Regions from separate parts of the Homo sapiens genome. Here region 1 is linked to region 2. Evidence: fine-mapped QTL for protein levels in blood plasma. A gene starts in region 2. The other region holds a variant in brackets. All regions are shown on one strand. Distances are between the middles of the regions.

Region 1 (8,334 bases), 14 kb after region 2:
TAGAGTCCTTAGACTTGAGCGAGCAGGGCCACTGCCCTCAAGGGTCCCTTTGGAGTGCCTTCCATACAGGAAGTTACCCCACTACAGTATCTGGGACTGGCTGAGGCCAGCAGTGCCATGTGGGTAGGGTGCTCTGAGCTTAGACTAGGACTGGTGTGGGCCCGGGTCCCATTTCTCCCCTTTGGAGCACTGTCTCCCCACTGCCATGTGTGGGGTCAACTAGGTGCTGCAAAAGAGTTCTGGGACTTGGTCAGGCGTGGTGGCTTATGCCTGTAATCCCAACACTTTGGGAGGCCGAGGCAGGTGGATCACCTGAGGTCAGAAGTTCGAGACCAGGCTGGCTAACATGGTGAAACCCTATCTCTACTAAAAATACAAAAAAAAAAAAAAAAAAAAAAAAAGCTGGGCATGGTGGCAGGCACATGTAATCCCAGCTACTTGGGAGGCTGAGGCAGGAGATTTGCTTGGACCTGGGAGAGGGAGGTTACAGTGAGCAGAGATTACAGGCATGAGCCACCGCTCCTAGCCCCAATGGGGCATTTCCTGTCAATGTTCTCTCTTGCCTCCAACTGGTGGGTGATAACATGCTTTCTTGGGTTGGTCTTAATCTGTGCAAGATGAAGGATAATCACTCCTTGCATGAACAGGATGCTTTTTTCACTCTGCCCACGGGTCTCTTGCTAGTAGCAATGTGTGGAAGGTAGGAATGTGGTTAGTTGTAAAAGAGGTCACGTTCTAGGAATGCAGTAATTACGGCTTAAAGAGTTCAAGAGAAAATATGATTGGAAGATATGTTTTATGTTTATACTACAAAACTCCAAATGGCAAATTCTACATGGCCTGAAAATTAATTATCATTCTCATTTTCTGGCATATTCTGGATAAGACTTGCATTTGTGATCATCACCAACAACATAAAGTAATAAAGTAACCTTTGAGAGAGTCATTGGAAGTTGGTATTTAGGCCATAAACTGGATAATTCCCTGTCATGAGTAACACTATAACTGACATTAAATGGCATTAGGAAACTACAGAGGCAAGAAGATACAAATTGTTTCAATTTAAATAGGTTTCGAAGAGCTGTAGCAGTGTGATACCCTTTTTTCTTGTGGTTGGAGACATGAAATATTCAAGAATGGTGCATTTGACAGTAAGGAGTGTGAAGAAATGATTCCTAGATCTAACAGGAAGAGATGATATCTGGACAGTCCGAAGAATCTCCATATACATTGATGGGACAATAAAGAAATATATAGTATCTCTTTCTTTTCTCATTATTCTAAAACTTCATTGACAAATCATGATACTTCACTTGGGCTCATAAATTTTGTAATATATTTAAACATGAAACTGTTTATATAGATAGGGCCCTCTTCCTCACCCTTACCCCCCAAAAAATTTAGCCAGGGCCACACACAGTAGAGGCAGCTCTGGTTGTGGCTGTATCCAAGGTAATGTCTCATGTGTTATGTCCTTATTAGGCTCTCGACAAGAAGTCATCTCCTCGCCTTCCTCAAGTGCTCAGTCTACCAAGCAGGGTAGCCTCAGTTGGTTCTTTTCAAGCCTCTCTTTCCCATGAAATGAAGTTACGTTATCCAGCAGAGATTCATTGCTGGTGGGGTCAAAAGGAACTCCAGGGCACAGAGTTTCTGTCATTTTCAGCAATGCTTTGATTTAGCGTGGAATTTGTTGATGTTCCTGCCTCCATTTCCTGTATCCTACGCAGAGACCTGCCTTTCTCTCCTCTTCACATTTTTGCAATGGGCTCCAGTTTGTTTTCAGAAAGTGATTCACATCCCAGAGACGTCACTTCCAGGAGCAGCTGGGCTGATTCTTTATAAGAATTATGATTCAGAAACCCAGTTAAGTTTGGATTTAGGGGAAAGGTAAGGGGAAGAGGAAAATGGTAATATTAAGGCCAAGCAACAGAGGCAATGAGGGAAATGTGAGTCTCATGTTGAGACATAATAGTCCATTACCTATGGAAATAGGATTTCAGGAGGTACTGGGATGCCCCAGTGTTTGAAAATGTCAGCTCTCCAGCACTAGCATGAGGTTAGTGTTTGGAATTATATCCTTATAAACTTATTGCATATCCCTATACACAAGTATATAAAATTATTAACTTCAAAAAATGGGATCTTCGGCACATTTATAAGGTGACAACAAGAAAAGAAAAAAGCAAAATAGGCCTTATTCTATGAATGCTTTTGCATGCGTTTGGCACTGTGCTACCTACTTACTGGGTATACAGTCATTAAAACAAAACAAAACAAAACAAAAGAAACAGGCTTTGCAACATATCCACAAATGAGATCCAGAGGGGATAATTGTGATAGGAAGAAGGAAGGTGATGTGATTAGAGCCAGCCCTGGGCACTGCTCTGGAAAGCTGGTCTTGCTAAGGACCAAACATACAGCAAGCAACTGTATTAGAAGACTGGGGTTAAAATAATATATTTGTAAGGTTGAGAACAGTTGATACATATAGACCTCCCTTACCAGGGAGGTGCAGCCATCCCACAGCTGCTGAGTATTCTCTGTCAAGAATTCACAGGTGCACTCTTCTCCAGAGCATAGCCTCCAGCCTATGGGGGCCGCCTTGTTGACAATGTCTAAGAGGTTATGTCCTTCCCCAGGGGTAGCCCATAGCCAATGACTGGCTGATATGGATGTGTAAGAACTTAGACCTCTTGCCTCAATCTTATGGCATCAGTCATGTTTTAGAGCTCCCCATGGGGTCAGGTTTGAGACTAGCTTTTAGCTAAAATCACTTCTTTTTTTAGCTTCTTACATACAGGTTTCTCCTAAGAGCACTCCCTCAATAAATCACTAACTCAAGAACATGTTCTTTTTTTTTTTTTTTTTTTTTTTGAGATGGAGTCTTGCTCTGTTGCCCAGGCTGGAGTGCAGTGGCGCGATCTCGGCTCACTGCAAGCTCCGCCTCCCGGGTGCACACCATTCTCCTGCCTCAGCCTCCTGAGTAGCTGGGACTACAGGCGCCCGCCACCATGCGCGGCTAATTTTTTGTACTTTTAGTAGAGACGGGGTTTCACTGTGTTAGCCAGGATGGTCTCGATCTCCTGACCTTGCGATCCGCCCGCCTCGGCCTCCCAAAGTGCTGGGATTACAGGCGTGAGCCACCGTGCCCAGCCCCTCAAGAACATATTCTAAGGAAGGAATAGGGAATTCATTTTTCTTGAAGCCCTCCAAGAGCTGAAGGTCAGGGGCCCAAGCTGGAGATCACTTCAGGCAGGTGGGCAGGGTAGACTCTAGAATGTCAGTGAAGCATAATGGTTAAGCACATGGAATCTGGAACTTCAATTGAAAATTCCAGAACTTTCATTGAAATTGTACTTCTAACATTTACTAGCTTATCTTAGGTAAGTAACTTCGATTGAAAGTTCCAGAACTGCGTTAAAATTGTAGTTCTAACATTTACTAGCTTATCTTAGGTAAGTAGCCTCTCTGGTTATACCCAGTAGAACTAACACAATGCCTTGTGCATTGTAGGTGTTCAATGTGTATATATCTAGTTGAACTCACTTATTTTTATTTTTATTTTTTGCATAGCCTATTCTCATACATTGACTAATATGCCTTTTTTTTTTTTTTTTTTTTTTGAGATAGTCTCGCTTTGTTGCCCAGGCTGGAGTGCAGTGGCTCGATCTCGGCTCATTGCAACCTCTGCCTCCCAGGTTCAAGTGATTCTCATGCCTCAGCCTCCTGAGTAGCTGGGATTACAGGCACCTCCCACCACGTCAGGCTAATTTTTGCATTTTCAATTGAGACAGGGTTTCACCATGTTGGCCAAACTGTCCTCGAACTCCTGACCTCAGGTGATCTGCCTGCCTCAGCCTCCCAAAATGCTGGGATTACAGTGTCACTGTGCCCGGCCATGACTTGATCTTCCCTGGTCCAATATTCTGGCCCCTGAATCAGTGATGTTTCCATTACACTAGGTTTCCAACTTTATTTTTCTAAATTTAAATGTAAAAAATGTTTTAGGCTGGGCATGGTGGCTCATGCCTTTAATCCCAGCACTTTGGAAGGCCAAGGCAGGAGGATCACCTGAGGTCAGGAGTTCAAGACCAGCCTGGCCAACATGGTGAAACCCCGTCTCTACAAAAAATACAAGAAAATTAACCAGGCGTGGTGGCACATGCCTGTAGTCCCAGCTACTTGGGAGGCTAAGGCAGGAGAATTGCTTGAACCCCGGAGGCGGAGGCTGCAGTGAGCCGAGATCGCACCACTGCATTCCAGCCTAGGTGACAATAGCAAAACTCAGTCTCAAGAAAACAAAAATATTTTTAGAGATGGGGGGCTTTCTATATTGCCTAGACTGGCCTTAAACTCCTGGCCTCAAGTAATCCTGTTGCCTTGGCCTCCCAAAGTGCTGGGATTATAAGGGTGAGCCACTGCACCTGACCTTTCTTGATCTGTGGTTAGTTGGCCATCTGTCATCAATATCTGAGACTATAGAAGCTCTTGATAAGAGCTTCATGTGTTTTAGCTATTATGGTAGCCTTAAAATGTGTCCACACAGTCACTAATGCTCTTCCCTCCAAAAGGTGAGCTTAATCTCTCTCTCCTTGAGTGTGACTGAATTCAGTGAGAGAATCTGCTAGAAATGGATTCACTTCCAGCGAACAGAATGTGATCAAAGTGATGGCATGCCTCTTCTGAAATAGGTCCAAAAAAGGATTTGGCTTCCTCCTTGCTCTTGAGCTCACATCACTCGCTCTGGGGGTAAGCTAGGTGCCATATCATATGAACACTCAAGCAGCACAATGGAGAGACCCATGTGGGAATTGAGGTCTCCTGCCAACACCAGGAAGGAATTAAGACCTCCTCCCAAAGGCCGTGTGGGTGAGCCATCTTGCAAGCAGCTCCTCCAACCCCAGTCAAACCTTCAGATGACTGCAGCCCTAGCTGACATTTTTACTGCAAGCTTATGAGAGACCCTGAACCAGAACCTATCAGTTAACCTTCTTCTAAATTCTTGACCTTTAGAAACTGCAACATGGTAA[A/T]TATTTGTTGCTTTAACTGCTAAGTTTTACAGTAATTTGTTTCACAGCAATAGATAATATAGTTATGAAATGCAAGACTTTCTGGTCTGGAATGGCTCATTATAGTGTTTTTTCCATCTCTCCACTCATATCATTTTTTCTTTATCTAGTAACTAAAGAATTATTTTACTTCCTCTCCCCTTCCCCACTCCCAGGCTAATAATTGACCTACCAACTTAGTTAAAAAACATAGAATGTTTATCATTTTTAGTACATTTATAAGCTTATGAAATGTATTTTCTTATCCAGTTATCTCCAGAAATATTAAAGATTACTGTTTATTCTGATTATTTTAAGTTCCTCACATAGAAAAAAGATACTATTTAACATTGTCATGGGTTAGGGTACCAGGCAGGTAAGAATATACGCCGATACACACACTTTCTAGAGGGCAATTTGATAATATGCAGCAAAAGTGCCTAATATTTTTTTTTAAATCTTTGACCCCAGGATTTTACTTTTCATAATTTATCCTAAGGAATCAATTTGGCAAATGCATAAAGTTGTATGAATAAAAATGTTCATCATAGCATGATTTATAATGGTAAAAGTAAAAAAATTCTAAGTGTCCAACATCAGGGATTATTTAAATAAATAGTAGTTTAACAATGAAATAGTATTCAGTCCCTAAAGGGATAGTAAAGGCCTAAATTTATTGACGTGAAAGAATGTAGATGAATTCAGTGAAAAAAATTTATGGTGTGTTTATTATTATTTCATTTTGTGAAAACACATGCCTACCTTTGTAAATAACATTTTATATATATATGTTTTCTAATATATATTTAACTTTCTTATACATGCATATATATATATATGCGTGTAAAAAATCCTGGAAGGATAGATATCAAAATGTCATCAGTGGTTAACTTTCAGTGATGAGATTTAGGGCAATTTTAATTGATTCATTATTTTCAAATTTATTTGTATTTTCTAATATTTTTCCTAGTGATTTAATGAATAAAAATAGCAATACCATTCATTGTAAAAAAAATTAGGAAAATACAGACGAAAAAGGAGAAAATCATGGTCAAATGTAGTCACACTATTTAAGATTAATCACCCTTAATATTTAGGTGCATATACTTTTAGATTTTTATGTGCAAATATACATACGAACATGTATATGTTAAAAAACTTGGAATCAAATATTATTTACAGGGTTGCCTTATAATTTTGAACTGTAATTTTAAATGTTTGAAGTAACATCAATCTCAGAAAAATTGCAAGTACAACACAAATAACTCTTTTTTTTTTTCCAGAACCATTTGAGAGTAAGTTAATGAATGCGCCTCCATTCCTGAATACTTTGGTGTGCCTTTCTTGTAACAAGGATATTCTCATATACAGCTATCAAAATCAGGACATTAACGTTAACATTCACATTATGCTACCATCTAACTCAGACTCTACTCAAATTTTACCATTTGTCTCAATAATGTTCTTTAGAGCAAAAAGATCCAATCAGAATCATGTGTTTCATTTAGTAGTCATGTCTCTTTATTCTCATTTGTTGTAATACAATTCCGCAGGCTTTCTTAGACTTTGACTCTTTTGAAGATTCCAGTCCAGTTATTTTGTAGAATGTTTCTCCATGTGGGTTTGTCCTGATTAGATTTAGATTCTCCATCTTTGGCAGAGATGTCACAAAAATGGTGCATGTTCTTCCCACTGCATCCTCTAAGTTTCAATTCAATTTCAATTTAAACCATTATTGATGATGTTTACTTTGTTCACCTGATTAAAATGAAATCTGCCAGCCTTCTCTACTGAAGTTATTATTTTTTTCTTTGTAACTACTAAGTATTTTGTAGTGGATGCATTTTTAAACTATGTAAGTATTTCAGCTGGGTCCGGTTGGCTCAGGCCTGTAATCCCAGCACTTTGGGAGGCTGGGGGGTTGGTGGAGGGTGAAGATCACCTGAGATCAGGAGTTCGAGACCAGCCTGGCCAACATGGCAAAACCTCATCTCTACTAAAATTATAAATATTAGCTGGGTGTGATGGCAGTTGCCTGTAGTTGCAGTTACTCAAGATGCTAAGGCAGGAGAATCACTTGAACTTGGGAGGCTGAGGTTGCTGTAAGGTGAGATTGCCTCACTGCATTCCAAGCTGGTTGACAGAGCAAGACTCCATCTCAAAAAGAAGAAGGAGAAGGAGGAGGAGGGAGGAGGGAGGAGGGAGGAGGGAGGAGAAGGGGAAGTGGAAGGGGAAGGGGAAGAGGAAAGAGAAGGAGAAGGAGAAGAAGAAGAAGAAGAAGAAGAATAAGAAGAAGAAGAAGAAGAAGAAGAAAACTGTGTAGGTATTTAAATCCTTATATTTTAAATGCATTCATTTATTTATATCAGTATGGATTCATGGTTTCTTGTTTTATTCAATGAGTTATAAGTTGTCCCAGATTAGCCAGTGGAAGCTATTTTAATAGGGCTTCTGTGTGTTTTTGATGTATCCCTATTCTTTCTCCTCCTCCTCCTCCTCCTCTTCTTCTTCTTCTTCTTCTTCCTCTTCTTCTTCCTCTTCCTCCTCTTTTTCTTCTTCTTTCTCTCTTCTTCTTCTTTTCTTTGCTCTGTTGTCCAAGCTGGAGTGCAGGGGTGTGATCATGGCTCACTGCTTTCAAACTCCTGGGCTCAAGCAATGCTCCTACCTCAACCTCCTGAGTAGCTGAGACTACAGGTGTGCATGACCATGCCCAGCTAATGTTTGTTCTTTTCTTTCTTTCTTTCTTTCTTTCTTTCTTTCTTTCTTTCTTTCTTTCTTTCTTTCTTTCTTTCTTTCTTCCTTCCTTCCTTTCTTTCTTTCTCTTTCTTTCTTCTTTCTTTCTTTTTCATTTTTTGTAGAGATAGTGTCTCACTATGTTGCACAGGCCGGTCTCTGAACTCCTGGGCTCAAGGGGTCCTCCTGCCTCGGCCTCCCAAAGTTCTGAGATTACAGGCATGAGCCACCATGCCCAGCCTCCCCATCATTATTTAGGCAGTTCCTTGCTTTTAGAAACTACAAGATGGTCCAAGCTCATTTTATATTTTCCTTCCCCTGGAACCAGTCATTTTTCTAAGATGACCTGGTTGTGTTTAGTGACGAACAGTATTTTGAAACCTGGATCTGGGTGCTAGGTAGGTGCTCATTGCTGTTGGGGTGAGAGAGCTCTAAGGCTGTCTCAGTGGACATAGGTGGGAATATGGCAAATAGCCAATCACACTCACACTCACATGTATTTGCATGTATTTTCTCTTTTTTCTTTCTTTCGTTTTTTTAATTTTTGCTTACA
Region 2 (8,334 bases):
TTTGAATATTATGAAGAAAACTGCTATTTTATTTCTGTACAGGTTTTTATGTGAACATATGTTTTCATTTCTCTGGGTTAAATGCCAAGGAGTGCAATTGCTGGGTTGTATGGTAAGCATACACAGTTAGACAGAAGGAATAAGTTACAGTGTTCAATAGCACAGCAGGATGACCATAGTTATCAATAATTTATTGTATATTTCAAAATGATTAGAAGATTTGGAATGTTCTCAACACAAAGACATGATAAATGCTTGAGGTAATGGATATCCCAATTACTCTGACTTGATTATCGAACATTGTATGAATGTATCAAAACCCCACAAATATGTACAACTATTATGTATCAGTAAAAAAAGGAATCTGACAAACTGTTTTACAGAGTGGCCATAACATTTATATTTTCACCATTAATGTATGCGTGTACCCAGTTTCTCTGCCTCCTTGCCGGCAGTTGGTATTTGCGCTATTTATTCTTTTAGCCATTCTGATGGATGTGCAGTGACATCTTGTCACTCCAGATCTCTGAAGTTCTGTCTGCAATTCTGTCCTCTCTGGTACTGTGCTCTGTGAACTCCAGTTGCCTTGGCTTCCTTGGACCCCCAGTTTTATCTCCTCAGCTCAGGAAGACTGGCGGACTCTGCCTGGGTCTCCCTCTCTGTGCCACAGCCTGAAAACTCTTTCTAGGAAATAAGCTGGGAGAATTGTAGGGTTCAGTTTTAACATCAATCTTTTCTACCCCTATCTCTTTACACCTATCTATCTGTCTGTCTATCTATCTACCTATCATTTATCCACCATCTATTTATTTATCATAAATTTTTCTTAACTACAAGCCAAGGGTTTTAGTATCAGAACTGCTATTAGTTATCTGTAGCATTTGGGACATTAACTTACTTGAGCCACTTCTTTGTTGGTGAAATGAGGGTCATCTTATATCAGCCTTCTCATAATTCCTTCTGAGAGATTCCAGGATACTGGTTGACTCTTCTAGAAGATACAGTGAGCAGTGTTGGTAGCTACGGTCCTTAGTATGTGCTATTTCTAAACAGGAAAATGATATTGATTGGGTGGGTAATGAGCATGTGTTGGTAATTGCTATGTAAGAGCAATAACAACAACAACTAATACATTTAGCCTTTTACATGCAGTGTCTTATATAATATTTACAACAGCCCTGTAAAGTAAGTGCTACTATTATCCAAATTTATTCATTTTTTATTTAAAAAATTTTTTTAGTATTATAAACCACTTTATGTCCAAGAACGATTCAAATTTAGAAGACGAGAAAACTGTAGCCTAGAAAAAGAAATAAAAATGAAAATTAAAAACCTGTCCAGTCTAAAGGTTATACTTACACAGACTTAGGTTCTTTCTTTGTATTTAATTAAAGGTTAATTTCAAATGATCTCTAGTAGTAACAAAACTCTTTAGTTATAAAGAAGCAGGTGATGCATGGTTGTTGAATACATTACCCCTGCTGACCTTAGACTGCTGCTGGGCTCAGCAGATAATTCTTGATTTTCTCTTCACATTGCAAATAGACCTCACCAGAATAAATGGGCAGAATAGACACCAAAGAGGGATAGCGCAAGCAAATGTGAGGGTGAAATGCAGTCAGTGCCTTGCAAAAGGAAGTGCTCAATACTGGTAGTCGGTGTCATTGCTCTTACTGCAAATTATAAACACCAGCACTGCAAAAGTCAGCCCAGTAGACTTTGTAAATCACAGAAGTGGCTCCTAGACCACCATTTGAAAAATTCTGCCTGAAGGACTAAGGAAAACATCTTCTTTTATTTTTATTTTATTTTTTTATACCACAGTTTAGGAAAACATCTTCTTAAAAGATCGTGTTTATGTCTACAGATGATTTTTATAGTGCCTTAACAGTCTCCAGAGTGGTTTTAAAAATATTATCTCAGAATGTCAATTTCAGCTAAAGAAGTGAACCTTAGGATCAACATTGTAACCCTCCTGGTTTTATTCACCCAGAGTATAGGGACTGATAATGATAATGCTGCTTTGGATAGTCTCCTATCTAGGGCTAAATGATCAGATTTGCAAAATCCAGATATTCTTATGGGAATGTGGTTATTGGCTAGGGGAATGGAAAGAGGGAGTAGAGAGTGGAAAACTGGATAAAGTTATAGGTAAAGATATGTGAAAACTCATGATTGTCTCAAATACTCTAAATCTTGTCATAATACACTTGTAAAGTAATAATCATGTTGGAGAGATGGCCAAATAAAGGCCAAAGATCTTGACACTGCAGAAATTATAGGAGAGGATTAAAGGAAGTACATGTGGCAGATATAAGAAAAGACTAAACTTGAGATTCATGCACAAGGTCAGGCTGCATAAACCACAGGATAGCGGGTGTAACTCAGGAGCAGAACAATTGATCCATGAAACAAAACTGTCTGCAGTTTCCCAGGCTGGAGAGATTTCCCGTCTTGGATGTCTGGATCTGTCTCAGTGCCCAGATAGCCTCACTTCAAAGTGTTTGTGGGAACAGAAAGAATTGGCTGAGTGTGTTTGTTCAGTGCTAGGCGGAGGAAGTGAAACGGGGAGTGGGTTTAGGAAGTAAGTGTGTGTTTAAGAGCACGTGGACCACCAGAAGATAACCATTTTTCTTCAGACTAGCAGCCAGGGCACTGCTCACGAAGAAGGAAACCCTGGGAGGGAAGAACTTGGGGAACGAGAGGACACAAGAATCTCTGCAGCTGCTTATGCATGTACGTAAGTCACAGAGGTGTTGGGTGCCTCAAGGAACAACATGGAAGTCCTCTCTCTTTTTTAAAATAAATAATTTTTTAATAAATTTTCGAGCACTTTGGGAGGCCGAGGCGGGCGGGTCACGAGGTCGGGAGATCGAGACCATTCTGGCTAACACGGTGAAACCCCGTCTCTACTAAAAAATACAAAAAATTAGCCGGGCGCGGTGGCGGGCGCCTGTAGTCCCAGCTACTTGGGAGGCTGAGGCAGGAGAATGGCGTGAACCTGGGAGGCGGAGCTTGCAGTGAGCCGAGATCGCGCCACCGCACTCCAGCCTGGGCGACAGAGAGAGACTCCGTCTCAAAAAAAAAAAAAAAAAAAGGAATCTGTCATTACAACCTTCTCTCACAAAGAACTCCAGGCGCAGACAGCATCACCACAGCATTCTACCAACCATTTACAGGGAAAGTAATGCACGTCCACAAAACTCTTCCAGAAAGACAAGGGAGCACTCACCAGCTCCTGAGGCCAACGTAGCCTCAGTCCCTAACCCAGCAAGGACAGCAGCGGAGAGGAGCTCACAGGCCAGCCCCCGCCACACGTACACACCACTGCGAGGCTCCAAAGCTCAAGCAGCGTGTATCCAGCGAATACAACAAGAATAATGAAAAAGCGTTATCTGATCAATTGCTAGAGGAGCAGAAGTAACTCTGGCAAACCTCACTGAATGTGAATCCTGAAAGTGCCTTGATCTGCGGTTCTACAAGTTATGGTGCTGGAGGTCTCAGCCAATGCTGTAGGGTAGGACAAAGAAAGAGCTCCAGTGCCAGACAAGAAAAAGTAAAACTCTGATTGATTCACCCATGAAACAGTGTCTGTGTTTAGAAACCCCAAAAGAATATATAGACAAATCATAAGGATGAAAAAGTGAGTTTGCTCCCTCTCCCTCTCCCTCTCCCTCTCCCTCTCCCTCTCCCTCTCCCTCTCCCTCTCCCTCTCCCTCCACGGTCTCCTTCCACGGTCTCCCTCTGATGCCGAGCCAAAGCTGGACGGTACTGCTGCCATCTCGGCTCACTGCAACCTCCCTGCCTGATTCTCCTGCCTCAGCCTGCCGAGGGCCTGCGATTGCAGGCGCGCGCCACCACGCCTGACTGGTTTTCGTACTTTTTTGGTGGAGACGGGGTTTCACTGTGTTGGCCGGGCTGGTCTCCAGCTCCTAACCGCGAGTGATCCGCCAGCCTTGGCCTCCCAAGGTGCCGGGATTGCAGACGGAGTCTGGTTCACTCAGTGCTCAATGGTGCCCAGGCTGGAGTGCAGTGGCGTGATCTCAGCTCGCTACAACCTCCATCTCCCAGCCGCCTGCCTTGGCCTCCCAAAGTGCCGAGATTGCAGCCTCTGCCTGGCCGCCACCCCGTCTGGGAAGTGAGGAGCGTCTCTGCCTGGCCGCCCATCGTCTGGGATACGAGGAGCCTCTCTGCCTGGCTGCCCAGTCTGGAAAGTGAGGAGCGTCTCTGCCCGGCCGCCATCCCATCTAGGAAGCGAGGAGCGCCTCTTCCCCGCCGCCATCCCATCTAGGAAGTGAGGAGCGTCTCTGCCCGGCCGCCCATCGTCTGAGATGTGGGGAGCACCTCTGCCCCGCCGCCCTGTCTGGGATGTGAGGAGCGCCTCTGCTGGGCCGCAACCCTGTCTGGGAGGTGAGGAGCGTCTCTGCCCGGCCGCCCCGTCTGAGAAGTGAGGAAACCCTCTGCCTGGCAACCGCCCCGTCTGAGAAGTGAGGAGCCCCTCCGTCCGGCAGCCACCCCGTCTGGGAAGTGAGGAGCGTCTCCGCCCGGCAGCCACCCCGTCCGGGAGGGAGGTGGGGGGGGGTCAGCCCCCCGCCCGGCCAGCCGCCCCGTCCGGGAGGTGAGGGGCTCCTCTGCCCGGCCGCCCCTACTGGGAAGTGAGGAGCCCATCTGCCCGGCCAGCCGCCCCGTCCGGGAGGGAGGTGGGGGGGGTCAGCCCCCCGCCCGGCCAGCCGCCCAGTCCGGGAGGTGAGGGGCGCCTCTGCCCGGCCGCCCCTACTGGGAAGTGAGGAGCCCCTCTGCCCGGCCAGCCGTCCCGTCCGGGAGGGGGGAGGGGGGGTCAGCCCCCTGCCCGGCCAGCCGCCCCGTCCGGGAGGGAGGTGGTGGGGGTCAGCCCCCCGCCCGGCCAGCCGCCCTATCCAGGAGGTGAGGGGCGCCTCTGCCCGGCCGCCCCTACTGGGAAGTGAGGAGCCCCTCTGCCCGGCCAGCCGCCCAGTCCGGGAGGGAGGTGGGGGGATCAGCCCCCCGCCTGGCCAGCCGCCCAGTCCAGGAGGGAGGTGGGGGGTCAGCCCCCCGCCCGGCCAGCCGCCCCGTCCGGGAGGGAGGTGGGGGGGTCAGCCCCCCGCCCGGCCAGCCGCCCCGTCCGGGAGGGAGGTGGGGGGGGTCAGCCCCCCGCCCGGCCAGCCGCCCCGTCCGGGAGGGAGGTGGGGGGATCAGCCCCCCGCCTGGCCAGCCGCCCCGTCCGGGAGGTGAGGGGCGCCTCTGCCCGGCCGCCCCTACTGGGAAGTGAGGAGCCCCTCTGCCTGGCCAGCCGCCCCGTCCGGGAGGGGGGAGGGGGGGTCAGCCCCCCGCCCGGCCAGCCGCCCCGTCCGGGAGGGAGGTGGTGGGGGTCAGCCCCCCGCCCGGCCAGCCGCCCTGTCCGGGAGGTGAGGGGCGCCTCTGCCCGGCCGCCCCTACTGGGAAGTGAGGAGCCCCTCTGCCCGGCCAGGACCCCGTCTGGGAGGTGTGCCCAGCGGCTCATTGGGGATGGGCCATGATGACAATGGCGGTTTTGTGGAATAGAAAGGCGGGAAGGGTGGGGAAAAAATTGAGAAATCGGATGGTTGCCGGGTCTGTGTGGATAGAAGTAGACATGGGAGACTTTTCATTTTGTTCTGTACTAAGAAAAATTCTTCTGCCTTGGGATCCTGTTGATCTGTGACCTTATCCCCAACCCTGTGCTCTCTGAAACATGTGCTGTGTCCACTCAGGGTTAAATGGATTAAGGGCGGTGCAAGATGTGCTTTGTTAAACAGATGCTTGAAGGCAGCATGCTCGTTAAGAGTCATCACCACTCCCTAATCTTAAGTACCCAGGGACACAAACACTGCGGAAGGCTGCAGGGTCCTCTGCCTAGGAAAACCAGAGACCTTTGTTCACTTGTTTATCTGCTGACCTTCCCTCCACTATTGTCCTATGACCCTGCCAAATCCCCCTCTGCGAGAAACACCCAAGAATGATCAATTAAAAAAATAAATAAATAAATAAATAAAATTTTCAACTTTACAAACAAATGTGATAATAATTCATGGAACTCATGAATATTCTTTATCCAGGTACATTATTTTTTTAAACTTCCCTTATTTATTTATTTATTTATTTATTTATTTATTTATTTAGAGATAGATTCTCACTCCGGTTGCCCAGGCTGGGGTGTAGCAGTTGGATCATGGCTCACTGCAGCCTCAACTTCCTGGGCTCCAACCATCCTCCCACCTCAGCCTGCCTGGTAGCTGGAACTGAAGACACACGCCACCAAGCCAGGCTAATTTTTTCATATTTTTTGTAGAGATGGGGTTTCACCATGTTGCCCAGGCTGGTCTCAAACTCCGGGACTCAAGTGATCCACCTGCCTCGGTCTCCCAAAGCACTGGAATTGCAGGCATGAGCCACTGCGCCCAGGCCCCCTATTTATTTTTTATCATTTTCTCTCTCTCTCTGTAAACACACACATGTATACATATCCATATATCTATATTCCGAAGCATTTGAGAGTATATTGCATATGTTGTGCTCTTTTCCTGCTTAATATTTCAGTGTGCATCTCCTAAGAAGAAGGATATTTTCTTAAACAATCAGGGTACAGTTTTACATTCAGTATATCAAATACATATATACAGTGATTCTCCCTACCCAAAGTTTCAGTTACCCATGGTCAACGACGGTCTGAAACTATTAAATGGCAAATTCCAGAAATAAACAATTCATAATTTAATGTTGCATGCTGTTCTGAGTAATGTGATGAAATCTCTCACCGTCTCACTCCATCCTGCCTGGGATGTGAACCATCCCTTTGTCCAGCGTGTCCATGTTGTAGACACCACCCACCCATTAGCTACTTAGTGGCCAATATCAGATGCACCGTCACAGTATCTCAGCGCCTGTGTTCACATAACCCTTATTTTACCTAGTAATAGCCGCAAAGTGCAAGAATGATGATGCTGGCAATTCAGACACGTCAAAAAGAACCCGTAAAGTGCTCCGTTTGAGTGAAAAGGTGAAAGTGTCTCAACTTAATAAGGAAAGGGGGGAAAAACATGCTGCAATTGGTAAAATCTACAGTAAGAAAGAATCTTTTATCTGCAAATTTTGAACAGTATATTGTTATAATTATTCTATTTTATTAGTTGTTGTTAATATATATTACTAATTTATAAATTAAACTTATGTAGATATGTATGTATAGGAAGAGAACAGTACATATAGGGCCTTAGACATTCACTGGGGTCTTGGAACATATTCCCTGTGGATAAGGGGGACTGCCATAATACTCTTATCTACTACAGAGATCATACTTTTATCAATTGCCTCAATAATGTTCTTCATAGCAATTTTTTTTTTTTCTGGCAGGGAATGTGTCTCTTTGTTAAGGGGATGAGACTGGCCTAGCAAGACAAAGATGCATGCTCAGCTCTCCTTAGGATCTTCTTTTTTTGAGACAGAATCTCACTCCGTCACACAGGCTGTAGTGCAGTGGCACCATCTTGGCCTTCTCACGGGTTCAAGCAATTCTCGTGTCTCAGCTTCCCCAGTGGCTGGGACTACTGGTGCGTGGCACCATGCCGGCTAATTTTTGTATTTTTAGTAGAGATGGGGTTTCACCATGTTGGCCAGGCTGATCTTGAACTCCTACCTCAGGTGATCCACCTGCCTTGGCCTCCCAAAGTGCTGGGATTATAGGCAGAAGCCACCAAGCCTGGCCTCCTTAGAATCTTTATGAGTAGGGGAACCCCCAGCAGGTCAATTGTTTGATTTTCTTTGGTTTCATTCTTATTCCATTTCTTCCCTGAGAGTATAAACCTAATCAGCAAGACTACTCAGATGTTAAGAGATCTTTAATAGTAGAAGGAATCTGGCTTAACAAGATGTAGCTTTAGCAGGGGCCTGAGATGTAAAGTTGGACATCTTCCCTCCAGCCTCAGCTTAGGAGTAAGAATGGACTGTGGTACTTTTTCTATTCCTTTTTATCTTTTGTGGGGAAGGTGGGTAACAAGAAGAGTAATAGATATTTGAATAAGCAAAAGCAAATTTGGGTTAAAAATAAAGAGATGGTCTTCTGTGGTAAATCTAGTCCTATATTGACAATAAGGCTTTCTACAAGAATTTCCCTAAAGGAGAGTGTGACACTGTACACGCTTGTCTTCTCAATCATTCTCTGGTTATTTGGCACAAATTTCTGTTTAAGAATCAATTGATGTCAGGGGCATGGTGGCTCACACTTGTAATCCCAGCACTTTGGCCAAAGTGGGATGATTAATTGACCGCAGGAGTTTGAGACCAGCCTGGGCAACATAGCGA

Which allele goes with the higher level. Positions count from the first base shown, and alleles are read on the strand shown. Strength reflects both the effect of a copy and how common the allele is.
As copies of A replace T in region 1, the plasma level of the protein whose gene starts at base 3,928 in region 2 goes down (weak association).

The links. A credible set is the group of variants that fine-mapping cannot tell apart. PIP is the posterior inclusion probability: the model's chance that the variant is causal. The UK Biobank Pharma Proteomics Project read protein levels with antibody pairs (Olink). The fine-mapping took linkage between variants from a reference panel, not from the people measured, so its PIPs are less certain.
Region 1: its variant is the best candidate, but not a certain one, in a credible set for the plasma level of the RNASE10 protein (UK Biobank, PIP 0.76).

The regions. Positions count from the first base shown.
Region 1 is chr14:20,515,355-20,523,688 of GRCh38, forward strand. No RefSeq gene overlaps it. Among named protein-coding and RNA genes, the nearest start is that of RNASE10, 14 kb to the left of the region's middle. The variant A/T (reference allele first, on the strand shown) is at 5,031.
Region 2 is chr14:20,501,610-20,509,943 of GRCh38, forward strand. It overlaps RNASE10 (ribonuclease A family member 10 (inactive)), which reads left to right and starts at 3,928. Exons shown (of 2, transcript NM_001386206.3): 1 at 3,928-4,410.